Homo sapiens: one gene and its partners. The protein of the gene in region 1 purifies or fractionates together with the protein of each later gene. This does not show direct contact. Each region holds a gene or a part of one and is shown on either strand. Other genes may lie near its edges. The genes, in order: ASIC4, POMT2, GLB1L2, ALG12, ODR4, PACC1 and MANEAL.

Region 1 (4,173 bases):
TCCCTTTTGGACCCTGCCGAAGCTCCCTGCCTTTAATAAACTGGCCAAGTGTGGACTTGTGATTCAGAGGTTTTGAAAAGGTAGGCAGGCGTGGGGGAGGGAGGACTGGCTGAGCACCACAGGCTCCCCTGCCCCTGCTGGGGCCTGCCTTTCCTTTCACCCGGGACCAAGTCATGCATGTGCCCAGCCTCACCCCGGCCCCCAGTGCGTGCTTGGTCACACATACACACAGAGAATTCTTTATGCCTCTTTATTCCCAATCTCGTCAGCACTTTATAAAATCAGACTGGAGGGAGAGAGGACTGAGAAGGCTCCCTTCCCACCCTCCAAGCTCAGCCGAAGTCTGGAAGGTCTCCTGCCCCCTCCCTATAGAAGGGACTCTAGGGGTGGGGCTGGTGCAGGGGGAACTGGGAGCTGGGCCAGGCCTGCTGGGCCATCCTCTCCCCCTGCCAAGAGGGGAGCTGGGCCTGGAGAGGGGCAGGAAGTAGGACCAGCCCAGCACTCCTGAGTCCTGGGGCTCTCCCTATCCTGCTGACATTGGGGCTGGGACCCTGGCTGTCCCTAAATCACCCACCCCTGTAGCCCTACCCACCTTCTACATCTGTATCCCCTCCCCCCACCCGGCTTTCCCTAAATATTTACAAATGTACAGAGGGCTCCCCCTCCCCGGCTGGGATGGGCTCTATCCTCCCCCTCCCTCTCCTTCCTTCCCTTCCTCTCCGTGAGGGCCCATGGCCTGGTCTCCAGCCCTCCCGGGGCACCAGCCTGGGGATAAGGGGTGTGGACAAGAAGGACCTTTGTGCAAAGCAGCTGACATCAGGGCAGGGGAGGATGAGAGCAGGAACTGAGTCCTGGCCCTCCCAGTGAGCACCGCCCCCAGGCCTCTCCCAGGAGCAGGAGAATGTGCTGGGGATCCCAGGAGGGGTCCCAGACTCCTGGGTCCTTTCAGTCACAGCACCGTCCTAGCAAGCAAAATCTTCAAAGAGACCTCCTGGGGGACCGTGGGGGTGGTGGTGATTGGGGAGCAGACTGCTGACCCCCCCACCCTCCACTCGGCCCCGGCTCGGGCAGGGACTCTGCAGGAGAAAGAAAAGAGAGAGTGGGACCGGGAGAGCTCAAGTGGTGCCCCCAGGGCTCACACCGCCAGCCTTTCCTTGTCACCTCGGGCAGAGGCTCCAGGGCCCCCTCCACAGGCTGGTTCAGAAACAATGGATGTATTCAGTCCTGGGGAGGTGTGGCTGCATGCTGCAGGCATTTAGAGCTTGTCCTCACCTGTTCCTTCAGCTCCTGAAGCCCCAAAGTGGAGATGCCCCCAGTGGAGGTCCGCAGGGGGGTCTTGGGACGCCTCCATACCCGCTTCAGTCGATCCCAGGACACCTTGGGGTTCAGGGTCGGGGACAGCAGTGGGCTCAGGAAATTTGGTTGAGGAGAAGCGTGAGCCTTACCATGCCCAGCTGCCCACAGGACTTACTGCCACAGCAAACTCCCAGTAGGACACCCTCCTCCTCCTCACCCATCCCCTTCTCCTGACTCTGAGCCCTCAGGCCTGCCAGCCAGTCAGGGGACCCTGGCAGAGAACCCTGAACCTGACTTTCCAGCCAGGCCAGCTCCACCAGGCACCCCGCACTGCCCCCTTCTGCTTTGCCCACGGCCCCCACTCCCACCCTGCCTTCTCCAGGGCCCTTGCCTCATAGATGTAGTCGAGGATCTCCAGCAACGTGAGGATGCTGGCCCCAATGAACAGGCCCATCTGTCCCCCGAGGTCTCCTGGGAAGCAGGAGAGCAGTGTCAGAGGGAGCGGCCGGGCCGATCCACCCCCACACAAGCTGGGGGCAGGGACACCAGTCTCACCCAGCAGGGCTGACAGGCCATAGGCTGCTCGCTGCTCCATGGCTTCAGAGGTCAGGGCCTCAAAGAAGACATCTAGGACCAGGAAGTTCTCCCTGTGGAGACAGGAAGCAGGGTATCCGTGTGGGCCTCTCTTCCTGAGAAGGCTGGCAGGGGCATCCTGGATCCAGCAGATCCTGATCAGAGATCACTACATGGGGAAGTCAGTGACTACCCCCCGGACTCCCCAAGGCTGTGAGGGGAGGCAGTCCCGGATGTGTGTTAGCTTCATCTTTTGAGGGGTAGCAAAGGGCCTGGGAGAGCAAAACACAACTCCTGGACCTGAAGGAAACACTCCTCCCTCCTCTAAAGCAGCCAGTGGTGTTGCCTTTGCCTCCTCCTTACGCCTCTGCGGACCCTTCAGTGACCCCTGTTGCCCGTCAGTCCACTCCACAATGCCCCTTCTCGGTGTCCTGGGCAGCCGGTGGCCTGTCCCCGGCACCTTCCTCCCCAGCCGCCGTCTTTTCTGCTTCCTCCACACAGCTGCCTATGGCTCAGGCTCCCCGCCACACCACCCCACCGCCCCACGTCCTGTCACTGGACGCCTCCCCATTGCCTCCTCTCTCAGACCCCAAACCCAGGGCCCTCAGAGGCCGGCTCACGCCTCCCCAGCTTCACTCCCCGACTGGGGCCTGAGAATCAGTCCTACATGATCAAACGTGGGCTCATTGACAAATTGTGGCATGAGTTTTGTGTCATAATCATCTGTCCCCACAGAACCCAGCACTGAGCCTGGCACCCAGACCACGCTCCACAAGTGTAGACTGGCTGGAGGGGACCAGACCCAAGCCTCAGGGCGGTCCCTCCTGCCTCCCCCTGCAGGGTACTGTGTTCCTCTCCTGTCTCATCCTGTCCCTCTCCCTCCGTGCAGGGAAGAAAGATGCATAAGCAAAGCACTCTGAAATGTGGCATATGTGTAATGACAGAGATCTGTACGGGTGCTGGGAACTCAGATGAAAGGTGTTTGGACCTGGAAGCACTTCCCTGGAGGTGGAGACACTGAACGTGACTTGAGCAATGAGTGGGGCTACTTAGAAGAGAAGGGCTGTGGCCAGGCAAGGTGGCTCACACCTGTAATCCCAGCACTTTGGGAGACCAAGGACGGCAGATCACTTGAGGTCAGGAGTTTAAGACCAGCCTGGCCAACATGGTGAAACCCCATCTCTACTAAAAAGACAAAAATTAGCTGGGTATGGCTGTGGGTGCCTATAATCCCAGCTATTTGGGAGGCTGAGGGAGAAGAATCGCTTGAACCTGGGAGGTCGAGGTTGCAGTGAGCCAAGATTGTGCCACTGCACTCCAGCCTGGGCGACAGAGCAAGACTCTGTCTCAAAAAAAAAAAAAAAAAAGAAGGAGAAGAATAGAGCTATGAAGGGCATTCCCGGTAGAAGACTCATCATAGAGATGCGGCCCACTCCCTGCCTCCACCATGCCCAGCGCCTGTTGAGGGCAGCCTCCACCACACACACACACGCACACAGACCCACACAGACATAGACACATTCTCTCACACACATACCCATTCACAGATACATACACTCATAAGTGTGCATGCACACACACATCACACACTCACACACCCACAAGACACACATACATGCCCCCCACACAGACACACACACACATGCATGTACACACCCACATACACCCCACACACATACACACCCACACCCACATACACACAAACACATACACACATACACTCACACACACGTACACACAGAGTCACACAGCCACCCCCCACACACACGTACACACAGAGTCACACAGCCACCCCCCACACACACACACACATACCGTATGTAGGTCTCGTTGCGGTTGTACTTCCTCGCCAGGTACCGGGCTGAGCCCCTGTTGGGGATCCTGACCATGGAGATCTCTTTCCCATAGCGTGTCAGGTTGCAGGGGGTGGGGCAGAAGCACGGGCCCTCAGGGCCCCCACCCAGGGAGTCTGCAACACAGAGGTAGCAGCTACAGTGGGAGTTGGAGAAGGGTGGTCCAGTGGCCCACCAGCTGCAGAGAGGAGGCCCAGGGGCCGTCCTGAGGCAGGCACACCCACACTGAGGGCCTTTACTGGCCAGCCCCAGTGCTTCCTAGAGGGGACTGGCTGCAGGTCCCCGCCTGAACCAGCTTCAGACTGCTCCAGAGAGCAGATATAAGCAGAACCCCCCAGCACCCTCCCAACCCCCTGGGACTGGGGGGGGGTCCTCGTGGCCCAGAGGGAGAACACAGCCCATCCACCAGAGCTAATCAACTATGTGAGGCCTCAGACACACAAGGAGGTGT
Region 2 (4,173 bases), on another chromosome or scaffold:
GCTCCTGCCTTTATCCCCCAAGTACTACCTGCTCCAAGATCCCTCCCCACTTAATCACAGGAAAATTCCTGTCCCCTTGGTGCCCAAGATCTAAGTCTCCAGTTAGGAAGAAAGCCTTGAGTGAATTCCAGGGCTAATCCGAGAGCCTTCTCAGAGGTTTTTGTTTTTAAAAGACTAAAATGGGCCAGGTGCGGTGGCTTGCCTGTAATCCCAACACTTTGGGAGGCCAAGGCGGGTGGACCACCTGAGGTTGGGAGTTCAAGACCAGCCTGGCCAACATGGTGAAACCCCGTCTCTACTGAAAATACAAAAATTAGCCAGCGTGGTGGCGGGCGCCTGTAATCCCAGCTACTTGGGAGGCTGAAGCAAGAGAATCACTTAAACTTGGGAAGCAGAAGTTGCAGTGAGCCAAGATTGTACCATTGCAGTCCAGCCTGGGTGGCAAGAGTGAAACTCTGTCTCAAAAACAAACAAACAAAAAAAGAGTAAAGTGAATTCTAATTGGTTGAATTTCTAATGGTAAAACATGTGAGAGAAACAGATCAAACCATGTGTATGCTGGGCATGGGAAGGGAGAAAGAAGTCAGCCCCATATGGATATCAGCCTCGTAAGCTATTTCTGCTTCATGCAATGTATTCCTATTTCTTTTTTCTTTTTTAAAATTCAGACAAATTCACATAACATAACATCCACCATTTTAAAGTGTGCAATGGGTGGTTTTAAGTATATTCACAAGATTGTGCAATCATCACCACTACCTAATTCTGTAACATGTCATCACCCCATAAAGAATCCCCACACCCATTTGCAGTCACTGCCTAATCCTCCCTGCCCTGAGATCCTGGCAACCACTAATCTACTTTGTGTCTCTGCGGATTTGTCAGTTCTAGATATTTCATATAAGTGGAATCACAGGGTATGTAACCTTTTGTGTCTGGCTTCTTCCATTTAGCATGTTTTCCAGGTTCATCCATGTTGTAGCATGTATCAGAACCTCATCCCTTTTTATGACCAAATATTATTCCACCATATGGCTGTGCCACACTTTGTTCATCCCTCCCTCAGCTGATGGGCCCTCTTTCCATTTCTGAGCCCAGAGGACCCTTAAAAAACACCAGAGATTTTCCATGAAAGTAGCTGGTCTGAAATGTCAGAAAATTCTTTCTACAAGTCCCAAATTCTTTCTAGAAGCCCCAAATCCAAAATCAAGATGTGGCTCCAGCCCTTAGGAACAATCCTCTGGGACCAGAGAGCTGCTATTCACCACACTGCTCACCTTTCCCAGGGGCGGGTGCACATCAAAGAAAAATGTACGGTTGATATAGTAACTTCCCATTTTTCCAAAGTGAGTCTCATCCCAACTAAAGGAAACACAGAAAGAGAAACAAGAATTTTAAAATTATCATAAAATCCAAATGGCCTTCATAAAGCATGGTTAAAATTAAAGGCTATGCATTTCAAACAATTAATGCAAAAGTCTGGATTTAAAAAAAAAATATTTTGACACAAGTGATTTTAGGAAGAAAGACATCAAGCTGGCCACTGGTCTTCATTTAGATAGATGAGAAAGGCGAGCAAATATTCACTAGCCAGTTACCAATTGAGTTAAATATACATATACTTACTCTGTATCTTGAGTTTCTATTTATTTTAAAAGGACAAGATGTTTTCTCATAATATGGAAAGGTTTGTAGTAAGAGTTTTCTTCTGGCCGGGTACGGTGGCTCACACCTGTAATCCCAGCACTTTGGGAGGCCGAGGCAGGCGGATCACGAAGTCAGGAGATGGAGACCATCCTGGCTAACATGGTAAAACCCTGTCTCTACTAAAAATACAAAAAATTAGCCAGGCATGGTGGCACGTGCCTGTAATCCCAGCTACTAGGGAGGCTGAGGCGTGAACCCGGGAGGCAGAGCTTGCAGTGAGCCGAGATCGCGCCACTGCACTCCAGCCTAGGCGACAGAGTGAGACTCCGTCTCAAAAAAAAAAAAAGTTTTCTTCCTATCTTCAAGTAGCTAGTGTAAACAAAAATTTAAATTAAAAAAAGTTTCTTCCAAGTCTGCTAACTTCTGAGACAACATTTGCTATTAGAAGGTCCATTACGACGCTGTTGGGCTGCTGGTCAGAGTTGAGTCTATAAACCATGAGTGTCACAGGAGTCTCATTTTGCTCAGCCACCCTGTGACAAGTAAGCTGCTAACTGTGATCTGGCTGATCTTATACTAACTAGTATATAAAAGTTGAAGGCTTTCTTACTAAATTAAGACCACATCTAAAACCTATCCTCATTGCTTAAGTTATTTTGCAAGTAAATAAGTGATTTGAATAAACAGGCTTTCAAACACAATGCAAAGTCCTCTTTTATACAACCACATACACCTTTCTACACCATACATGAGGGCTTTGGGAACGCAGCCAAGTCATCCAGCAGAGCCTGGCCTTTTCTATTTGTAATTTTCTCCCTGTAGCTCAAAAGAAGGGTTACTTTCTAGTAGTCATCAATCCCCAGGTCATGAGCAGTCATTATTGACCTACTACATAAGGGGAAAACATGCTTTACCTAAGAATCTAAGGTTCTTTTTATATCTTACTTGGTGGGTCCAAGATAGGCAAAAGAATAGGTCTATTTCAGCATCTGCTAAACACCTTGACAGGCAGTGAGGACATTGGCATGGTGAGGTCGAAGACAGAAATAACTTCAAAGCAGGGTAATGAAACTGATTTGCAGAAAGAGAGATCCAGTCCCAGCTCCACCACTAATTAATGGCACAACCCGCCAAAATCACTTATTCTCTCTAGTCCTCTTATCTCATCTACAAAATGAAGACAATAATATTATCTGCCCTGCCCACCTCCCAGGGAGGCCTTAGGGCTCAACTCAGATAACACATGTGAAAGAATTCTGTAGATTATAAAGTACCATCCCTGCTGGGCCCTCCTTAAACTGTCCTGACATTTGTGGTTAGTTTTTAAATCTGTTTGGGAACATACTAACAAAAGGATTCCAGTTTTTTTGTTTTGTTTTGTTTTGTTTTGTTTTTGCTTGTTTTTTGAGACAGAGTTTCACTCTTGTTGCCCAGGCTGGAGTACATGGACACAATCTTGGCTCACTGCACTTTTCACCTCCCGGGTTCAAGCGATTCTCCTGCCTCAGCCTTCCAAGTAGCTAGGACTACAGGCGGCCGCCACCACACCTGGCTAATTTTTGTATTTTTAGTAGAGATGGGGTTTCACCATGTTGGCCAGGCTGGTCTCGAAACTCCAAACCTCAGGTGATCCACCTGCCTCAGCCCCCCAAAGTGCTGGGGTTATAGGTGTGAACCACCGCACCCAGCCTGGGCTCCAGATTTTTACTTCAAAAGTTTCCCAAGTAAAACCAGTTGTAACATTCATATTTCCTCCTGGCTTTTATTGCTTGTGTTAGGAGAGACAGTCCTCCGTGGCTCTCTTGTGCTCCTCCAGGCCTTGCAAGGTATGCCAAGAATGCTGTTTGCAGTAAACAACCTTGAGGGAAGTTAGTGTCTCCCTCTGAGACAGAGGGCTGTCTTGTTTATTGCTTGCCATAAAACAGCAGATTCCCTAAGCTTAATATTACTCAGCTGTGATGCAAGCTACTGCATGTGCAAGCATTCATCCAGTCCCTCAGCACCACGTGGGACTTAGGGGCAAAGGAAACTGATGCCAACATGCTGATGCACATCCCACTTGCTGTGCCATGAGAAATAAAGTCCTCTGTCTCTGACCCAAGACTTTGTCTTCTGTCAGCATGCAAAAAACAGTGACAGGCTAACTTATTAGCTAATAAGTAGGCTAAGATAAAATCACAGCCCCTGACAGTGTGGAGACAAGCATAGGATGAGGAGAGACATAGTCTTTGGTAAGAGAAAGAATGAGGGCCTCCATGGGCAGGCAATGGGGTAGTGAGAGTCCCCCACTGTCCCACTATTAGAGAGGCTGATGGAAAGAGGTAGGATTGAAACAAGCCACTGAATGTCACCCTGGTTACTGCCCTGTCCTCTGGGCAAAAGGAGGAAGAGGAGTGATCATGACAATGGCAGCAAGCCCAGCAGCCCCTGCCAAAAGGCAATATGGATATGGCTGCTCAATCAACAAGTCTCCAACGGTGCGGCAATAGGACCCTGCTATATAAGATAGAACTTTGAGTAAAATGA
Region 3 (4,173 bases), on another chromosome or scaffold:
TCCCTGCCAACGACTGCCCCCGGCACTCACTCACCTCCCGATGACTGCCCACAGCACTCACCTCCCCCAGGTACTTGAGGGCGTCCCACAGAGACAGGTACAAGACTGGCGTTAAGGGCTCATACGGCATCTTGGGAAGAAGGTCAGGTGGGGGAGGGAGAGGGATGCCTGCAACACAGAAAACAGGGTCACCCCCAACGGACCCAAATGTCACTGCCTGCTCGTCCTCCCCACCCGGCTCCCATCCACAGACCCGATGTGCTCCTGCGTCCCAGCACCAAGAGGAACAACAGGCTAGCTCTCAGCACCTGCTGAGGCCAGGGAGGAAGGCCAGGCCTGGGGGAAAGCCAGGGCGTTCTCCCGTCCTCCACAGGAGATAAGGAGCGTTAACACCTGTAACAGGTGAAGCCGGCAAGATGGAAACAGCCTCACACACCTCCCTGTCCTTGTCTAGGATATTCTTGCACGCAGATCAACTGGGGTCGAGGTGGGACAGTAAGGAAGTAACTCTTTAGGGGTCTGAGAGCAGAAGCGAGGGCCTGAGTTGGAACTTGAGTCTGCTGTCTGCTGGGTACCTGAGATGGAGCCGAAGAAGTCTCGAAGCTTCATGTACTTGGCCGTGTAATCGCCGGCTTCTGTCAGCACAGCATCATAGTCTGCAAGACACCGGGCCCTGTCATGGTCATTCCTGTCCCCAGCACAGCACATGTAGCACGAAGAACAGGGAGAAGCTTGGAAGGGCCACAGGTCTTCATCTCAGCCATTGGGGAGGCAAGACACTTTTGAGCCATTCAGTCAAAATACTGTAAACATGAAAGACCAGGCAACTACAACAAGCGTCCATAAGGCCAGGTGCAGCGGCTCACACCTGCAATCCCAGCACTTTGGGAGGCCAAGGCAGGAGGATCGCTTGTGCAGTGGCTCACACCTGTAATCCCAGCACTTTGGGAGGCCAAGGCAAGAGGATCGCTTGTGCAGCAGCTCGCACCTGTAATCCCAGCACTTTGGGAGGCCAAGGCAGGAGGATCGCTCGAGGCCAGGAGTTCCAGACCAGCCTGGGCAACATAGCGAGACCCCCACCTCTACAAAAAATTTTAAAAATTAGCCAGAGGTGGGGGTGCACACCTGTAGTCCCAGCTACTCAGGAGGCCGAAGCAGGAGGATCACTTGAGCCCAGGTATTTGAGGCTGCAGTGAGCTATGATCACACTACTACACTCCAGCCTGGGTGTCAGAGTGATAACTCTCTCACAAATTCAAAAAAACACAAACTGTCCATGATCACAGCATGGCCCTAAATTTCTAGCTGCAGGTGTAATTTCTACTTTCTGGGACTCTCAACCTAAAGGAGGCAGGATCACACCTCCTCAAGGGCCTGGGCAGGGAGGGGAGGCCACCGTCCCTCCCTGTCCCCCTAGGGCGGTCTCCTTCCACTTCCTCAGGCCAACCTTTGCCAAAGAGGCCTCTCTGTAGAGTGACCAGCTCACAGGCACACCACCTCCCTTGAGGCTTCCCTCCTCTGGGAGTGTAACATGACTGTCCAGGCAAGTACCTTCTCCAGGTACTCTATTGCCAAAGACACGAAGGTGCCAGAAGTTGACCCTGAGGGCCTCTCCATAGCAAGTCCCAGCCATGCCCATGCAGGGCAGACCAGGGAGAGCAGTGCTGATGAATACTTGCCATAGCTGGTGACATCTGACTTGTAGTCATGGAAGTGCATGGCTCCATTCATGAAGCCAAAGTTGGTGCCTCCGTGGAACATGTAGAGGTTGATGGAGGAGCCGGCGTCCACAATGGCAGACACGGTTTTCAAAACCTCTGCCGGAGGAGGGAGAAAGGGGATGTGCAGAGTGAGTTAAAGTCTGAGATGAGCCGGGGTCCCTTCACTACTCTCCTCTTTCCCAGTCCCACCTCAAAACCTCAAGGCCAACTTTGTCACTCTGTCCTTCTAGCTCTCATAAAACCCCAATCACAGAAGATTAGGGGTGGAGGAGGAAGTGTGGGCCAGAATCATGGCCCCAGAGCTCGAGCCTCCAGTTGTCTGTCAATCCTGGTCAAGTCTCTGAGCTCCATGTGGACCACCTGCAGCCCAGGTCGGCCAGGGCCTTCCAGCCAGCACAGTCTCCATGTGAGTCTGCCTGACCAGGTGTATCAAGTGCACAAAGATGGGATGCATCCTTAGAGAGAAAACTCTGACACCTCCTATTCTACCTTTGTTAGGAAATGAACCATGACATAACAAGATCATAGCAAAGGAGAAAAACAAATGGTTAATAAATATATATTTTATCAATATAAATCAAAGAAATGCAGACTAAACAATGATGTACTGAGTAGACAAATATTAAAAGTTATTTTAATACTCGGTGTTGCTGAATCTGTGGGAAATGGGTGCACCCATTCAGCAGCAGCGGCTGAAGCTGCCGTCTTTCCGGGGGCTGAGGGGCGAGCATGCACATCTACACGGTGCCGAGGAGCCCCTGTGCCGCTCATCCCAGGGAAAGCCGGGTGCGCAGAGCGCAGGCTCCGGGATGCTCACCGGGATGCTCGCCGGGATGGCGTGCGCTTAACAGAACCACCAGAAACAACCCGGGAGACTGTGTCCACAAAGTGTGGTTTAGAATGGGGCTCTTCACATTCTTTAAAACAGTCATGTAAATCTGTATTTGGTCATACAGAAAGCTGTCCGTATGTGCATTAACTGGCACAAGCAGGTGACATGCAGCGGAGTGTGATGGCATCTGTCTCTATCTGTGTGTGCGTATAGAGCTGTCGGCAGAGATACAGAGAGAACTGCCTGCGTGGTAAACAGCTAAGTGTTTTCTCTGTGCTCTGGGAATTTTATTTCTTCTCTATACTTTTTCTGTATTTTCTGGATGTTTGCAATAGGCATGCATTACCCTTCTAATTACAAAAACACGAACAAGCAATGTTAAAAGCCCTCCCATTCATCCAAGTGTCAAGACAAATGACTCAGGAATATCCAAAGCCAACTTCTGCACACAGATAATCCCAGCAGCCTTGCACCCCCTATGGCTTACATTAGTTAGCAGGTGACTGAAACTCATCCTCACTTCTTAAGTAGCACACATTCTGGATGTAGTCACCGCAAGCACTCACCAGAAGAATCCAAGATATTGTGAGGGCCTCCCCACGAGTCAAACCACCCCGTCCAGTACTCCATCACCATCTTGGGCTGAGTCCCCTGGACACCACAAAATGAGAGTTAGACAAGCAGGCTGGCCAGACAAAAAAGAGGGAAGCTCTTCATGGAGGGGAGCCCCAGGATCTCTGCCCTCTCTACTCTTCCCTGTCTGCATACCCACTGCCTTAGAGGTCTTTGGAGGTGGGGCATAGGTGAGGGCCAAATTCGCCTGCACACCAGTTCTCCTGCCACATGTGGCCTCCTGCAGGTATAGAGCAGATAAAGCTCCCAAAGTCGATATGGCAAACCCTGATGGTTTTAATGTTGCATACGTGTTAGCAAGAAGACACTGGTCCAGGATCAAGCCAAGCTTTGCCTGTCCTCTTCCAGGGAAGGGGGATGTTTTACCCAGGACAACTCCATATCTGAGAGGGATACTGTGGATGCAGATCCCTCCCCCCCACCCTGGGTACTGGCTCCATTAGCAGAAAAATCAGACGCTGCAGAGTGGGCCCTCTTCAAGGTCCAACTCAGTTTAAACAGCAGTTTGCAGCATTTTCTGAACCAGAAAATCAGGGCCTTACAGCACAGCTATTCATGGTGCAGGTTCTGCACTGACAGTTTGGATTTATACCTTGGCTGGGCCACTCAACAAATCTTAAATCTTCTTTCTGAATACTGACTTTGGCATAGGACGGCCCCAAGGAGGCCAAGATCATTCCTGGGACCATGCTCCACTCTGCCACGTTTGCAGAAGCCCAGAGCACCTGGGGGAGGTGTAAAGACTAACACGCTAGTATTTCAGGCTCTGCATGAGAGAGCCTTCCTCACTTATTCAGTGACAGCTTGTCAAGTATCTCTAGGTCAGTGATAGCCTTATGTTTAGAGGGATACCGCATACACAGCAACAAAATCTGATCCAGGGGGATGGGACAAACTCACGGTCCATTGAGTAGAAGGTACCAGCCATACCCGGGTTAAAGCCAAAGTAGTTACAAGAATTCTTCTAGCAAGACTGGCGGCTTGGTT
Region 4 (4,173 bases), on another chromosome or scaffold:
GACTTTTTATAGTTATTCAGCCTGAAAAAAGAATGGTTACACATCATAGGCAGAACGTAATGACAATAAAATTAATCTACCTACAAAACATACTAGGAGCATAACCTGCTGTTCAACTTCACCAAGTCATAACAAAGAGTTCACCACCAAATAAAACAGAGTCAGTAACCCGTAAAAGTGGTTAAGATACTGCCTCAAGAATTGTCTGTGAAATTCTACCCAAGATGCCAATTTAAAATTTAGATGAGATTTTAAAATATATATATATTTTTGAGACAGAGTCTCGCTGTGTCACCCAGGCTGGAGTGCAGTGCCATGATCTCGGCTCACTGCAACCTCCGCCTCCTGGGTTCAAGTGATTCTCCTGCCTCAGCCTCCCAAGTAGCTGGGACTACAGGTGCACGCCACCATGCCCATCTAATTTCTGTATTTTTAGTAGAGACAGGCTTTCACTATGTTGGCCAGGCTAGTCTTGAACTCCTGACCTCGTGATCTGCCCGCCTCAGCCTCCCAAAGTGCTGAGATTACAGGCATGAGCCACTGCGCCCAGCCTAAAAATATATTTTCAAACAATCCCAAGTGACTGTGTAGGTCAGAGTGCCACCCGCGCGGCCAAGCCCACTCCCAGCAGGTCTGAGTGAACTCTCTGGGACAGGGTGCCGCCGGTTCTCTCACAATCGACTATGCCAATCTCAGGATCCTACGGCAGAGTTAGCAGCTGCCACAGACAGTGTGGCCCACGAAGATGAGGCTCTTTATTAGCTGGTCCTTAACGGAAAAGCTTGCCAACCCTGGTCTAAACGCCCTGAACCCCCGATCAAGACTCACTCTCTTCCAAACCCACCAGGCTCCTCGGAGCCCTCTTCTCCACAGGCCCTGCCCTTTGCTATGGTTTGGATCTGCGTCCCCACCAAATCTCATGTCCAACTGTGATCCCCAATGCTGGAGGTGGGGCCTGGTGGGAGGTGACTGGGTCATGGAGGTGGAGCCCTCAGGAATGGATTAGCGCCATCCCCTCCATGCTGTTCTCCTCATACCGAGTGAGTTCTCGAGAGGTCTGCTTGTTTGAAAATGGGTGACACCTCCCCCGTCCCTCTTCGTCCTGCTTTGGCCACATAAAAGCGTGCCCGCTTCCCTCTCGCCTTCCGCCATAATGGAAAGTTTTCCCAGGCCAGCCTGGAAGCTGAGCAGACACCAGTACCACGCTTCCCGTACAGCCTGCGGAACCGCGAGCCAATGAAGCCTCCTCTTTATAAATTATCCAGTCTCAGGTGTTTCTTTACATCAGTGCGAGAGCAGACTAGTGCACCCTTGAACAATCTCTGGTGCGGTTTCTGAGCTCGAGGCCCCACCTAGGATGACCGCAGCCTCCTAAGTGCCTGCCCCAAAGAGCTCAGCACTGCCAGGGCGTTCGTCCTTTGTTCCCGCCCAAACCTGGAGTGGGCAGTCACTGTGGAAAGCTCGCAATCAGAAACCTTCCACCCCCAGGACTGTCTCAAGGCCCTGGGCCCTGACACCGTGGGAAACGGCCTGCTCTTGCTCCCAGGGTGGCCGGGCTGAGGACCTGACTTCGGAGGGGGCCTTGCTCTACCCTGCACCCCCTCATTTGGACTCCCCAAGTTTGTCCTCCTCCGGATAAGGCCGACTGGCACAGCAGGGGCCCTTGCATGGAGCAGCCCCTCACGCCCAGCACACCAGGCCTCAAAGACACAGAGCTGGGTCCAGTTCCCACTGGATCTTCTTCCCTGCTGGAAAAGCCTGTCACCGAATACAATCCATCCGCGCCGCTCTCCCCGTCTTTCCTACCCTCTTTTCCATGACTCTGGCTGGGGTCTGCTCCTCCTCCAGCCCTGAGCCGACCCCTGAGACGAGAGGGAGCCAAAGGCACAGAAAAGCAGAGGCAGAGCTCCCAGGAGCCCCCACTGAGGCGCGGCTACAGCAGCCAGAGGAGCCCCCAACCCAGGCACGGCCACGGCAGCCGGAGGAACCCCCAGCGAGGAACAGTCACGGCAGCCAGAGGAGCTCCCAGGCCCGAGGGCAGTGCGGGGCAGTCGGAGCTGGGGGGCACCATCCCCTCCCCTGTAACAAGTGGCACCGGAAAGCACCTGACCGCTGCCTGAGATCAGGGACCGCATTGTGGGGCTTCCTCTCCAGCCAGAGTGGGCACCTCTCAATGCCCCAGGCCGCGGCCCTCCTGGCCTGTAGCCCTGCCGCCCCTCAATGCCCAGCGTGGCCTGAGTTGGCCTCCTGTTCCCATCAAGGCAGCAAACTCTGAACGGGCACAGAGCTGGCCAGCCTCAGCCCTGGGTTCTTCCGCAGCACCCACAGGGCCAGCAGTGATGGACTCTCCTGGGCCTGAGCCCCGGGTCCTTCCCCAGCACCCACAGGGCCCGGCAGTGATGGACTCTCCTGGCTCCCTGAGGCTTGCAACACTGAGTGGCAGCCGCGCTCAGACCACCCCACCCTCAGCCCAGGCAGTGCCCTCCCCAGGCCCTGCCAGGCCCCCAGCTCCACCTCCATCACCTGCTGCCTGCAGTCCCTCCCCGCAGGAAGCCCCCTGCCCTCCACAGGACCTTGAGCCTGGGCCACGCTGGGCCCTCTGCACCCAGCCATAGGCACCTCCCTCACCATCCCCCTCTTCCAGCCAGATGACCCGCCTTGACAAACGCCCTCAAGCCCGAGGCCCTGTCAGGATGGCCACGAACGCCCTTCCTCTACCTGACCTGTCGCCCTCAGAGCCTCCCAGGCCTGGCTGCCCCTGCCCTCTGCCGCTGCTACCTATGTGAGTGTCACTCTCCCATGACAGAGACTGGGACCGCTGGTGCATCACCATATGTGGACCAGTCACCAAATTAACCCAAGACAGAGACCACCTGAGCAAAGCCCTCTGTCAGCACAATGCCAGGCCGGTCCCATCCCATGCAGCCCTCAGGGAGGAGAGAGGACTGGGGTCACCCTCCTTTGACATAAGCGCCTAGTTCAACACACCCTGTGTTTATCTTAAAAAACAGCCCTGGTGGCTCACACCTGCAATCCCAGCACTTCCAGAGGAGGAGGCAGGAGGATGGCTTAACCCCCTAGGAGTTGAGGGGTGCAGTAAGCCCCACTCCAGCTGGGCGACAGAGCAAGACCCTGTTTCAAAAATTAAACACACACATACATCCCCCCAACAGTAAATCAGTGAACCTGTTTCCAATGAAACTATAAAAATGCATGTCACAAAAAGAGCACTCACAGGTAGGAGCAGCCTCTGGCAGCCGTGATGTTGAGCATGGGGAAGGCATAGATGATGAAGCGTAGCTCCTTGTGTGGCAGGAGGGAGTAGAGTGCCATGAAGCCCAGTGCCAGCACCGTCGGCGCGTGCGTCCTTCTGTCTACCAAGCCCAGGGGGATGAAGAGCAGGCTGCAGCCCAGGCCGCGGGGCAGGGCTGAGTAGAAGTACCACAGCAGCGGGGAGGTCTGCGGGCTGGGTTAAGGAGGCCACGCACCTGTCCACGCATGAGCCCGTGGGCTAGGTGGCAGGGTCAAGGTGGAGAAGACGCTTGAAGACAGTTGTGCTGAGAGATGCAGCCTGGACCACGGCTCGTGTGCACAGACACCACTCAGGCCTCAGGCCCCTCCTAAAAGACAGAGCCCAGGCCACAGCTCGGGTGCACACATACCACTTGGGCGTCGGGCCCCCTCCAGGCAGGACCAAGGCAGCAAGGGCCACAGGACGTTCGGTCTCTGTACCCTTTTCTTCACTGTTAAAAACAGATGGTCGGCCGGGCGCAGTGGCTCATGTCTGTAATCCCAGCACTTCGGGAGGCCAAGGTGGGTAGATCACGAGGTAAAGAGATCGAGACCATCCTGGCCAACATGGTGAAACCCTGTCTCTACTACAAATACAAAAATTAGCTGGGCATGGTGGCATGTGCCTGTAATCCCAGCTACTCAGGAGGCTGAGGCAGGAGAATCACTTGAACCAGGGAGTTGGAGGTTGCAGTGAGCCGAGATCATGCCACTGTACTCCAACCTGGCGACAGAGTGAGACTCTGTCTCAAAAAAAAAAAAAAAAAAAACCAAAAAACAAAAAACAGACGGTCACGGGTGACACACATGTTGGGATTCGTTATGCTGTTCCATCTATGCGTGTATGTTTGACATAATTCCTAAGAAAGCACTTTTTAAATG
Region 5 (4,173 bases), on another chromosome or scaffold:
TCTTTTCCTTTTCTTTTATTTTGAAATGGAGTCTTACTCTGTAGCCAAAGGCTGGAGTGCAGTGGCACGATCTCGGCTCAATGCAACCTCCACCTCCCAGGTTCAAGCCATTCTTCTGCCTCAGCACCCCGAGTAGCTTGTGCTTACAGGCACCTGCCACCACACCCGGCTAATTTTTGTTATTTTTAGTAGAGACAGGGTTTCACCATGCTGACCAGGCTGGTCTTGAACTCCTGACCTCAAGTGATCTGCCCACCTTGGCCCCTCAAAGTGCTGGGATTACAGGCATGAGCCACCACGCCTGGCCCCTGCCTCCCAAGTAGCTGCAATTACAGGCACCTGCCACCAATGCCCAGCTAACTTTTGTATTTTTAGTAGACACAGGGTTTCACCATGTTGACCAGGCTGGTCTCAAACTCCTGACCTCAAGTGACCCACCCACCTCGGCCCCCCAAAGTGCTGGGATTACAGACATGAGCCACCATGCCTGGCCCCTGCATTCGTTTTCTAAGGATAAAGGCCTCCAGCTCCATCCATGTTCCTGCAAAGGACATGATCTCGTTCTGTTTTAATGGCTGCACAGTATTCCATGGTGTATATGTACCACATTTTCATTATCTAGTCTGTCATTGATGGGCATTTAGGTTGATTCCATGTCTTTGCTATTGTGAATAGTGCTGCAATGAACATAATGCATGCATGTGTCTTTACAATAAAACAATTTATATTCCTTTGAGGGTATAGCCAGTAATAGGATTGCTGGGTCAAATGGTATCTCTGTTTTTAGGTCTTTGAGGAATCAACACACTGCCTTCCACAATGGTTGAACTTATTTATACTCCCACCAACGGTTTATAAGCATTCCTTTTTCTCTGCAGCCTTGCCAGCATCTGTTATTTTTTGACTTTTTAATAACAGCGATTCTGACTGGTGTGAGATGGTATCTCATTGTGGTTTTCATTTGTGTTTCTCTACCGATAGTAATGCTGAGTTTTTTTTCATACGATTCTTGGCTGCATGTATGTCTTCTTTTGAAAAGTGTCTGTTCATATCCTCTGCCTACTTTTTAATGAGGTTGTTTTTCTAAGAAAAACATTTGCCTTTTACTTTAAATCAGAAATCAGAAATGAGAGGTAGATGAAATCAGTTTTCTTGTAGGCAAGGACTAAAAATAAGTCATGTTTTATTTTTCCTTAAGCACTAACAATTTAATAAGATGATTTTCTCTTAACTTACCTGTCCTTCTAATAGGTCACAATCTTCATCTTTAACTTGTCCATTAATCAAATAAACACCATTTTCTATTTCCTTGGCCCAGCGTGTAAGTCCATTCTTAACAGAAACACAACATGGAAATCTTTCAGATACAATGCCATCTCAATTAAACTTCCTATAATCTACTTTGTTCCACCTAATAAATTGAAATATTAAAATCCCTAAATCTCATTACTGCAGCATTTAAATCTAGTTTCACAAATTAAAAAAAAGTATACCCCCATTCTTGATACCTTATTATATTTAATAATAGTTATTTTCTGATCTTTATCCCAGAATAACATTTATGTCACAGACTCAGGAGGTTATTAAGTACATGATCAGTTAAATAAAATTTAATGCCCACTACCTTAAAAAAAAAAGTGAGAAAAAAGCATCAAATAAGTCTAAAAAATAAAAAAAAAAAGCTCTATTTGACATCTTCAATGGGAAAAATGAAGAAAAATAAGATAAAAATAAAAGAATGGTATAGAAATACAAAAAAGAACTGGAAAAAGGAAGACAAAAAAACCTAAGTACTAAGAGAAAGCTAAAAGTCCAAACAGTATAGCTTCTTACATTAATTACATTTTACATGTTAATTAATGAATACTGTTATATTTAGTTTAATGACAAAGCACATAATAATACTTAATCAGCACATAATAAGTACTAGTATATTTAGTCTAACAACTAAATTATTAGTTATTATTAAACTGAATATACTAGTATTATGACATTGTTCCACTTCTAAAAATTTCTAAAAATTTCTAATTTGGCTGCGGTAATAAGTTACTCACATAACAACATTGTAAGCAGAATGTAATTTTTGAGGATTGTAAAATGAATGACACATGTAAGCAGAATAAAAGCAGATTGTTCACTCAGCAATCACTGAAGAAAATTCATTTTACCCTGGTACCTTTGTATTTTTCTCCAGAGTATAGCTGACAGAAGTAGCAGAAAGTGGGATGTGAATATTAATGTGAACTGTACACTCTAAAGAAAGCCATGAGGATGATAATCCACTTTGATACTTCCAATCTGCTGGTCTTGCTGAACTCTAGCAGTGGAGAAGGGAGAAAAATAACTATGATGTAGTCTAGATAAAATACATGGATCAACAAAACATTATTAAATATACAACCTAAATAACGCATACAAACTCATATCTAACATATATGGCTAAACCCTTGATCAAAAGACTATAGGTTGAACTAAACACAAAATAAAGCATGTGTTAAGTTCAGTACTCTTCAATACATCCTTGGCAATACTTCTCCTCCCAATGGTAGGCAGAAAAAGAATCAGAAATTTCCATGTTTAGAATTCTGAAAGGTCCTTTGATCCTCTAGCTTCAACAGTATCAATACTGAAGATTCTGATCTGAAGCAAATAATCACTGAGCAACTCCTAGGTGGCAGGCATTCTCCTTTCTGTCCCATCCTTGCTAATGACACTGCAAAGTTACTTTTTCACAACCCTTTTAGATGCATTAGCAAAGTGCTAATCTGGGTTTTGCTGAATACACATAGCTTGTTTAATAGGCAGTGCAGCTACCAAAAGTCCTCAGTCACTTTTACTACCAGCCTCTCAAATATAAAACTAAATACACAAACAAGGTAGGAGGAGATTAACAAAGATATTTTAACAATTTTTTAAAAAGTTGGCTGGCCGTGGTGGCTCAAGCCCGTAATCTCAGCACTTTGGGAGGCGAAGACAGGCAGATCACTTGAGCCCAGAAGTTCAAGACAAACATAACTAACATGGTGAAACCCTATCTCTATCAAAAAAAACAAAAAACAAAAAACAAAAATAATTAGCCAGGTGCAGTGGTGCACATCTATAGTCTCAGCTACTCAAGAGGCTGAGGTGGGAGGATCCCTCGAGCCCAAGAGGTGGAGGCTGCAGTGAGCTATGACTGCATCACTGCACTCTAGCTTGGGCAAGAGAGTGAGACCCTGTCACGCACAAAAAAGTTTTCCTTATCTGTAATAAAATTAATCATATTTCAAAATAAAAACTACAGTTGTTTGTAGGCATCAATAGGAAGTGATGGCAATGGAAATTATTAAAACTAAATAAAAGCTGAATTTTGATTGAAAATACTTTGTGACACAGAAAAATCTTTAAAGAGTAAATTTCTTACCTTTGGATCATGGATATCATAAGTTCGACAAAATATTCTTCACTAATTAAGGACAGAAATAACCAAAAAAGGCATTATTGGTAACTAAAAGAATATAAACTATCAAAAAATAAACTAAAAAATGCACGCATCCAAAAGTTCTTACAAAATCATAACACTTTAAAGATATGCGTACATATATGTACATGTGTGCATATATATACATATGTGTATATATAATCATACATACAAACTGCTATCACTATAGTACTTGCGGTGCTTGAAAATCATTTCCTACCTTTTATGAATCCCGCTAATTGCAATAAATAGAATCAAAGCACTCGTGAGATTCTTCTCAAATATACACTCTCCATAAGAAAAAGTACCACTGTTTTATATGAGGTCAAACCTGAGACTATTTATTGGATTAAAGGGCTTGTATATGAAACTTTGCAGTTAAATACTAAAGATTTTTTTTGTTGTTGTTAAAAAAAAAAAAAGCCCTGCTTCTGCAGGAATGGTCACTTTTAAAATTCTGTCTTTGGAAGTCCATGGATCGTGTCACTCCTTTGGTGAGGATGACCCTTGCTTGGGAGGTACTCTTGCCCTGGTAAGAGGCCGTGTAACTGGCTTTTAGTGTCATTTCATCTTAGCCAAAGACATAAGAATTTCTCCGATGTCCTATACCATCCAGCTCTGTGCACCTGTGCTTTGAATTGTACATCCTTATCTATAGAAACTGGAGGTGAAAACTTTAACATAATAAAAACATTACTTTGCCTAAGCCATCA
Region 6 (4,173 bases), on another chromosome or scaffold:
GCCTAGCCTTGACCACGCCATAAAGATTTGTTGAGTGAATGAATGAAGCCCCAGCCTGACTTCAACTTCTTGGATGGATCCCATCTGTTTGTGGGAGAGGGGAACAAGACAGGAACTAATGTGGTTCTGCCTGCTCCTTACAGAAGACTGCATGGAAGGGACCGGGCACGGTGGCTCATGCCTGTAATGCCAGCACTTTGGGAGGCTGAGGCAGGTGGATCACCTGAGGTCAGGAGTTCAAGACCAGCCTGGCCAACATGGTGAAACCCTGTCTCTACTAAAAAATACAAAAATTAGCCAGGTGTGGTGGCACATGCCTGTAATCTCAGCTACTTGGGAGGCTGAGGCAGGAGAATCGCTTGAACCCAGGAGGCGGAGGTTACAGTGAGACGAGATCATGCCACTGCACTCTAGCCTGGGTGACAAGAGTGAGACTCTGCCTCAAAAAAAAAAATAAAATAAAGTAAAAAAAGACTGCCTGGAAGGAAGGAGGCTGGAAGGGCAGCTAACATTTCCTGACTGCTTCTCCTGTGCCAGGATCTGTCGTACCCCATTTGCCCCATTTAATTCTCACATCAACCCTGTGAAGTGGTTATCCCCCTTTTACAGATGAGGCCCCCAACCTCAGGGAGGTTGAGTAAAGCATGGGGAGGTCATATAGCTGGTAAACACAGACTGAGTCAAACTCTGCCCAACCCTAAACTCTCTCTACTACACCAGTGGTGTTTTCTTTTTTTTTTTTTTTTTGAGATGGAGTCTCACTCTGTCACCCAGGCTGGAGTGCAGTGGCACAGTCTCGGCTCATTGCAACCTCTGCCTCCCAGGTTCAAGTGATTCTCCTGCCTCAGCCTCCCAAGTAGCTGGGACTATAGGCGTGTGCCACCACACCCAGCTACTTTTTTATTTTTAGTAGAGATGGGGTTTCACCATGTTGGCCAGGCTGGTCTCAAACCCATGACCTCAGGTGATCCGCCCACTTCAGCCTCCCAAAGTGCTGGGATTACAGGCGTGGGCCACCGCACCTGGCCTACATCAGTGGTTTATAAAAACTATTTTAAGTGGTGGTAATCCCAACACTTTGGGAGGCCAAGATGGGAGGATCTCTTGAGGCCAGGAGTTTGAGACCAGCCTTAGCAATAAAATGAGATCCTGCCTCTACCAAACAGACAAAAACCAAAAACACTCACACAAAACAATAAGCATTCTTTTATTAAAGCCCAATATGTAAAAGATAGTAGCACGGCTAATCCTCCCTCTGACATGAGGCATTGCCTCTAAAGCCCTAAGGCTCCCGGGAGAACAACTTGAAAGACCTGTATATTAGTTTTCTATTGTTTCTATAACAAATTACCAAAAACTTAGTGGCCTAAAAAAACACAAATTTATTATCTTATAGTTCTGGAGGTCAGGAGTCCAAAATGGATCTCACTGGGCTAAAATTAAGCTGTCAGCAGGCCTGAATTCCTTTCTAGGGGCTTGAGGAGAGAACTTGGTCTTTGCCTTTTCTAGCTTCTGGAGGCCTCCTGCATTCCTTGGCTTGTGGCCCCTTCCTGCAGCTTCAAAACCAGCAGTGGCTCGTCGAGTCTTTCTCACATGACATCACTCTGATGCTGACTCTCCTGCCTCCCTTTTCTGTGTTTAAAGGGCCTTTGTGATCACATCGGGCCCACCCAGGTAACCCAGGATAATCTCCCTGCTTTAAAGTCAGCTGATTAGCAACCTTAGTCCCATTTGCTGCCCTAATTCCCCTTTTCCATGCAACTTGACATATTCACAGGTTCTAAGGATTAACACTTGGACATCTTTGGGAGCCTTTATTCTGCCTACCACACCTTGCACTACCCTCTTGCCCCCAACCAGAAGTGCATAGATGGAGGCAGGAGAAAGAAGAGGAGGGAGGCCAGACTTGGAAAGATGAGGCTTGTCTTTGTGTTTCCTTTCATAGAGAAGTGCCCAGGTAAATCAGGAGGTGGCCCTAATGTCCTTGGACCTTAGCAGCCTCTCTTTTGCCTCAGATTCCTGGGGCTGCAAAGCCTGGGGTCAATCAGAATAGGAAGCCAGGCCTCAGGCAGAGCAAATTTTGGGTAGTTCCATCAACTGGCAAGAGCATTCCCACTTGCTTTGGGGTAGCCTTCCCAGTTGCTTTGGGGGAACCAGATGAGCTGGGCTCATCTCCTTTCTAAATCACAGAAGATTCAGATCTCAGGAGTCCATTTGGCTGGGTCAGTAGTGAGTTGGCTCAAATTTGATGGACTGATACACAACTCTCAGAGCTCATTTCTTGCCTCTGACTCTTCTTTTTTTTTTGAGACAGTCTCCCTGTGTCAACTAGGCTGCAGTGCAGTGGCACGATCTTGGCTCACTGCAACCACCACCTCCTGAGTTCAAGCAGTCCTCATGCCTCAGCCTCTTGAGTAGCTGGATTATAGGCACTTGCAATCATTCCTGGCTAATTTTTGTATTTTTAGTAGAGACGAGGTTTTGCCATGTTGGCCAGGCTGGTCTTGAACTCCTAACCTCAAGTGATCCACCTGCCTCAGCTTCCCAAAGTGCTGGGATTACAGGCGTGAGCCACCATGCTTGGCCCCTTTGAGTCTTCTAATAATAATAATAAAAATAATGGTAATGGTGATAGTGGTTGCCATTTTGGGGGTGCTTTCATGTACTAGGCCTGTGTAGGGCTTTAGGGCTTTTTTTTTTTTTTTTTTTTTTTTTGTGGGGTGGGACCTTGCTTTGTGGACTGGGCTACAGTACAGTGGTGTGATCATGGCTCATTTCAGCCTCCCGAGTAGTTGAGACTACAGACATGCGCCACCATACCTGGCTAATTTTTAAATTATTTTTAGAGACAAGGTCATGCAGTGTTGCCCAGGCTGGTCTCAAACTCCTGGGCTCCAGTGATCCTCCTGCCTTGACCTCCCAAAGTGCTGGAATCACAGGTGCAAGCCATTGCTCTGAGCCTATAGGGCTTTTTATATACACTTTATCCTGTAATCTTCACAGCCACTCTGTGAGGTGAACGGTTAGTCCTAGTTTATAGATGAGGAACCCAAGGCACAGACGTTAAGGAATATGCTCAGAGCTCATGAGTGGCAGGGCTCAAATCCATACCCAGAGCTGTCTCGCAAGGTGTTCTGACTCTGGCTCAGTTGTTCCTAGATGAGAGCTTTCCTGCTCCAAATTCTCCCCTCCCTGTAGCAGATCAATTAAGGACTGCTTCACTTGTTATGCCAAGTGCTGACACCACAAAGAGGGTGAGTAAGTTCCTCCAGGAACTCAGGCATATAGAGACAGAAGGCCGGTTACCCAAGGAAGAACTTGTCCCTCCTTCTGAGCCTTCCTTGACTTCCCTGATGAGGTCCCTTTCTCCCTGTGATATGCTTTCCTTTGTAACAGTTAACACAGTTGATAGGTCACATTTATTGAGTTTAATTATTCAGTTAATTGTTATCCATCCCTTGGCACTGCCCTACAAGTTCTGTGAGGCACACAGATTTTGTCTTCTCCTCCTTTACTGTAACTCCAGTGCCTAGTGTGGAGTGTAGTATGGAAGTATGACTCCATAGAAGTATGAGTACTGTAGGTACTCAGTACCTATTTGTCCTCTGGGGGAGAGCAGTGGAGATTTAGAGCAAGAGAGCCTCTCATCTAGGAGCAACTGAGCTAACTGGAATGAATGAATGAGGGCCAAAGAAATGGTAGAGTCAGGTGCTTCAAAATTAATGAAGGGGCCTGGCGTGGTGGCTCACACCTGAAGGGGCTCACACTGTGGCTCATCCCAGCACTTTGGGAGGCCAAAGCGAGCAGATCATCTGAGGTCAGGAGTTCGAGACCAGCCTGGCCAGCGTGGTGAAACCCCATCTCTACTAAAAATACCAAAAAAACTAGCCGGGGCATGGTGGCAGATGCCTGTAATCCCAGCTACTCAGGAGGCTGAAGCAGGAGAATCACTTGAAGCCGGGAGGCGGAGGTTGCAATGAGCCGAGATTGTGCCACTGCACTCCAGACTGGGTGATAGAGCAAGATTCCATCTCAAAAAATAAAAATACAAATACAAAAATTAGCCAGGAATGATGCACGCCTGTAATCCCAGCTACTTGGAAAAAAAAAAAAAAAAGGAAGGAAGGCTGGCTGGTTTGAGAAAGTGGGACTACTCTGAAGGAAAGGTAACAT
Region 7 (3,066 bases), on another chromosome or scaffold:
CCTCCCGTGGATGAGATACGGATGCAACACAGCCCAGTTCTGGAGCCAGTCAGTCTCCACAGTTGGAGTCATCATGCCTCTAAGCAAGAACCTGGTTCCCTCCTTCCTCTCTCCAGTTGTCATTCCTAAGCCTCACTTCCCTACCCTTAGCCAAGCCACCACCGTCTTCCATCTGGATTGCAACAACAGCCAGCTAACTGGTCTCCAGGCTCCCATCCTGCCTCCATATAATCCATTCATTATTCCCACCTACTTGATCTGGCCCTGCCTACTCCATTCCTGCTCTTTTCCCAGCTATTACTCCCCATCTGGCCTTTCTATCCGGCTCTCATGTGTCATGCAAGCTTGTTCCATCTTATGGGACTTGCATCTGCCAGCCCTCTGCTTGGAATTTTCTCCCTGCCTCCGGATCTTTGCAGAGCTGACCCTTTTTCTTTTCTTTTTTCTTCTTATTATTACTACTTTTTTCTGAGATAGGGTCTTGCTCTGTTGCTCAGAGCTGGAGTGCGGTGGGCGATCTCAGCTCACTGCAACCTCTACCTCCTGGGGTTCAAGTGATTCACCTGCCTCAGCCTCTCAAGTAGCTGGAATTACAGGCACCCGCTACCATACCTGCCTAATTTTTGTATTTTTAGTAGAGATGGGGTTTCACCATGTTGGCCAGGCTGGTCTTGAACTCCTGACCTCAGTCAATCCACCCACCTCAGCCTCTCAAAGTGCTGGGATTACAGGTGTGAGCCACTGGGCCTGGGCTTTTTTTTCTTTTTTCTTTTTTTTATTCTTAAGTCTCACTGTATCGCCCAGGCTGGAGTACAGTGGTGCCATCGTAACTCACTGCAACCTCAAACTCCTGGGCTCAAGTGATCCACTCACCTCAGCCCCCCAAATAGCTGGGACAATAGGCATGCATCACCATGCCCAGCTAATGTTTAAAAAAAAATTTGTAGAGATAGAGTCTCCCCATGTTGCCCAAGCTGGTCTCAAACTCCTGGCCTCAAGTGATCCTCCCACCTCAGCCTCCCAAAGTGCTGGGATTACAGGTGTGAGCCACCACACCCAGCCCTGACTGCTCATTCAGGTGTTAGCTCACCTGTTGTCTCCTCAGACTCACCTGACCTGACTATCCATTCTTAAGTAGCATCGTGGGCACACTCTAGCACAAAATCCTGTACAGATCACTGTTTGATTTTTCCCATTTAATTACTGTCTGCTCCACAGTACCTGCAACATACACTAGAAAGTAAACATTATGAAATCAGAAATTTCGCTAGTCCTACCCATTACTGTACAACTGGGCTTAAGTCAGTGCCTGGACACATGTAGGCACTCAATACTCTCTTTTTTTTTGTTTGTTTTTTTAAGAGACAGAATCTTGCTCTGTTCTCAGCTGGAATGCAGTGGTGTAATTGTGGCTAACTGTAACCTCAAACTCCTGGGCTCAAGTGATCCTCCCACCTCTGCCTTCCAAGTAGCTAGGACTACTACAGGCATGCACTGCTATGCCCAGCTAATTTTTTTTTTCAGTAGAGATGGGGTCTTGCTATGTTGCCCAGGCTGATCTCAAACTCCTGGCCTCAAGCAATCAATCCTCCCACCTCTGCCTCCCAAAGCCCTGGGAGGCCGGGTGCAGTGGTTCACACCTGTAATCCCAACACTTTGGGAGGTCGAAGTGGGCAGAGCATCTGAAGTCAGGAGTTCAAGACCAGCCTGGCCAACATGGTGAAATCCCAGGCTGGAGTACAGTGGTGCCATCATAGTTCACTGTAACCTCAAACTTCTGAGCTCAAGTGATCCACTCACCTTAGCCCCCCAAGTAGCTGGGACCATAGCTGTGCATCACCACGCCCAGCTAAAGATACAAAAATACAAAAGTTAGCTGGGTGTGGTGGTGGGCACCTGTAATCCCAGCTACTCAGGAGGCTGAGGCAGGAGAATCGCTTGAACCCAGGAGGCAGAGGTTGCAGTGAGCCAAGATTGTGCCACTGCACACCAGCCTGGGCAACAGAGTGAGACTCTGTCTCAAAAAAAGAAAAAAAAAAAAAAAAGCACTGGCATTACAGGCATGAGCCATTGCACGCAGCCTCATTCAATATTTATTTATTTATTTTTGAGATGGAATCTCGCTCTGTCACCCAGGCTGGAGTGCAGCGGTGCAATCTCGGCTCACTGCAACCTCCGCCTCCCAGATTCAAGCGATTTTCCTGCCTCAGCCTCCTGAATAGCTGGGATTACAGGTGTGCGCCACCACGCCTGGCTAATTTTTTTATTTTTAGTAGAGACGGGGTTTCACCACGTTAGTCAGGCTGGTCTCGAACTCCTGACCTCAAGTGATCCGCCTGCCTCGACCTCCCAAAGTGCTGGGATTACACCATGCCTGGCCTTCATTCAATACTTTCTGAATGAATAAATGAGGTGCCTACATTGTAGAAGCTACTTTCACATATATTAATTCGTGTGATTCTCACAAGACTCAAAGGTTAAGAGGCTTGCCTCATCACAGATTAGAAGCCACAGGACAGGAATTGAAACCCAGGCTGCCTGACTTTAGGCCCAGTACTCTCTTACTATAAAACAGCTGCTGGGAAACACAGGCATTATGCCCTGTGTCTCTTGACCTGCCCCTCCAAACCTTCTATCCCTACCTCCATTTTGATCCCCACCAAAATCCCGGCCCCCAGAGCAGCCTTACGTGTCAATGATGTACTTGATGTTGTCATGTACAGTGATGTCATCCCGGCCCTTGTAGGGTTGGATGTGGAAGGCCACCTGCCACAAACAGAGGAGTAATGGTCAGGTGAGTGTCTATCTAGGGGCCACAACATATCAGGCTCAGGATCTAACCATGGCCTGGAGGAGAGGCTGAGTTCAGAAGAGGGCCTGGCAGTGGTGGGCACAGTAGAGATAAAGGCAGCTGCTGCCCTTGAAGGCCAAAACAGGGGTGAGCAGTTTGCCCATCTCCCGCAGCAGGGCATGTGGGAATCATTTTGGTGGGCTGTTACAGGGTGGCTAATAGGTTTCAACCTTGTGCCAGCTCCAAGTGGTTGGTGCTAGCTGCCTGAAACAGTG

Evidence for each region.
Region 2: the proteins of ASIC4 (region 1) and POMT2 purify together in Homo sapiens (affinity purification with mass spectrometry; 2 studies listed by BioGRID and IntAct, with this or other methods). This does not show direct contact.
Region 3: the proteins of ASIC4 (region 1) and GLB1L2 purify together in Homo sapiens (affinity purification with mass spectrometry; 2 studies listed by BioGRID and IntAct, with this or other methods). This does not show direct contact.
Region 4: the proteins of ASIC4 (region 1) and ALG12 purify together in Homo sapiens (affinity purification with mass spectrometry; 2 studies listed by BioGRID and IntAct, with this or other methods). This does not show direct contact.
Region 5: the proteins of ASIC4 (region 1) and ODR4 purify together in Homo sapiens (co-immunoprecipitation; 2 studies listed by BioGRID and IntAct, with this or other methods). This does not show direct contact.
Region 6: the proteins of ASIC4 (region 1) and PACC1 purify together in Homo sapiens (affinity purification with mass spectrometry; 2 studies listed by BioGRID and IntAct, with this or other methods). This does not show direct contact.
Region 7: the proteins of ASIC4 (region 1) and MANEAL purify together in Homo sapiens (affinity purification with mass spectrometry; 2 studies listed by BioGRID and IntAct, with this or other methods). This does not show direct contact.

The regions. Positions count from the first base shown.
Region 1 is NC_000002.12:219,534,836-219,539,008, reverse strand, and holds the end of ASIC4 (acid-sensing ion channel 4), read right to left. Parts: exon of another isoform or gene 3,839-4,173; coding exon 3,685-3,838; intron 1,944-3,684; coding exon 1,852-1,943; intron 1,768-1,851; coding exon 1,688-1,767; intron 1,378-1,687; coding exon 1,273-1,377; intron 1,077-1,272; coding exon 963-1,076; 3' UTR 237-962; downstream 1-236. UniProt on the Homo sapiens protein: Does not exhibit measurable stand-alone pH-gated sodium channel activity but may form pH-gated heterotrimeric sodium channels. Its activity could also depend on alternative gating mechanisms.
Region 2 is NC_000014.9:77,310,672-77,314,844, forward strand, and holds part of POMT2 (protein O-mannosyl-transferase 2), read right to left. Parts: intron 1,363-4,173; coding exon 1,278-1,362; intron 1-1,277. UniProt on the Homo sapiens protein: Transfers mannosyl residues to the hydroxyl group of serine or threonine residues. Coexpression of both POMT1 and POMT2 is necessary for enzyme activity, expression of either POMT1 or POMT2 alone is insufficient.
Region 3 is NC_000011.10:134,366,288-134,370,460, reverse strand, and holds part of GLB1L2 (beta-galactosidase-1-like protein 2 isoform b precursor), read right to left. Parts: intron 3,205-4,173; coding exon 3,120-3,204; intron 1,818-3,119; coding exon 1,680-1,817; intron 657-1,679; coding exon 576-656; intron 169-575; coding exon 62-168; intron 1-61.
Region 4 is NC_000022.11:49,904,486-49,908,658, forward strand, and holds part of ALG12 (dol-P-Man:Man(7)GlcNAc(2)-PP-Dol alpha-1,6-mannosyltransferase), read right to left. Parts: intron 3,460-4,173; coding exon 3,236-3,459; intron 22-3,235; coding exon 1-21. UniProt on the Homo sapiens protein: Mannosyltransferase that operates in the biosynthetic pathway of dolichol-linked oligosaccharides, the glycan precursors employed in protein asparagine (N)-glycosylation.
Region 5 is NC_000001.11:186,388,855-186,393,027, reverse strand, and holds part of ODR4 (protein odr-4 homolog), read right to left. Parts: intron 3,441-4,173; coding exon 3,404-3,440; intron 2,318-3,403; coding exon 2,177-2,317; intron 1,333-2,176; coding exon 1,237-1,332; intron 1-1,236. UniProt on the Homo sapiens protein: May play a role in the trafficking of a subset of G-protein coupled receptors.
Region 6 is NC_000001.11:212,404,648-212,408,820, reverse strand, and holds part of PACC1 (proton-activated chloride channel), read left to right. Parts: intron 1-4,173. UniProt on the Homo sapiens protein: Chloride channel gated by pH that facilitates the entry of chloride ions into cells upon exposure to extracellular acidic pH. Involved in acidosis-induced cell death by mediating chloride influx and subsequent cell swelling.
Region 7 is NC_000001.11:37,796,444-37,799,509, reverse strand, and holds part of MANEAL (glycoprotein endo-alpha-1,2-mannosidase-like protein), read right to left. Parts: intron 2,767-3,066; coding exon 2,690-2,766; intron 1-2,689.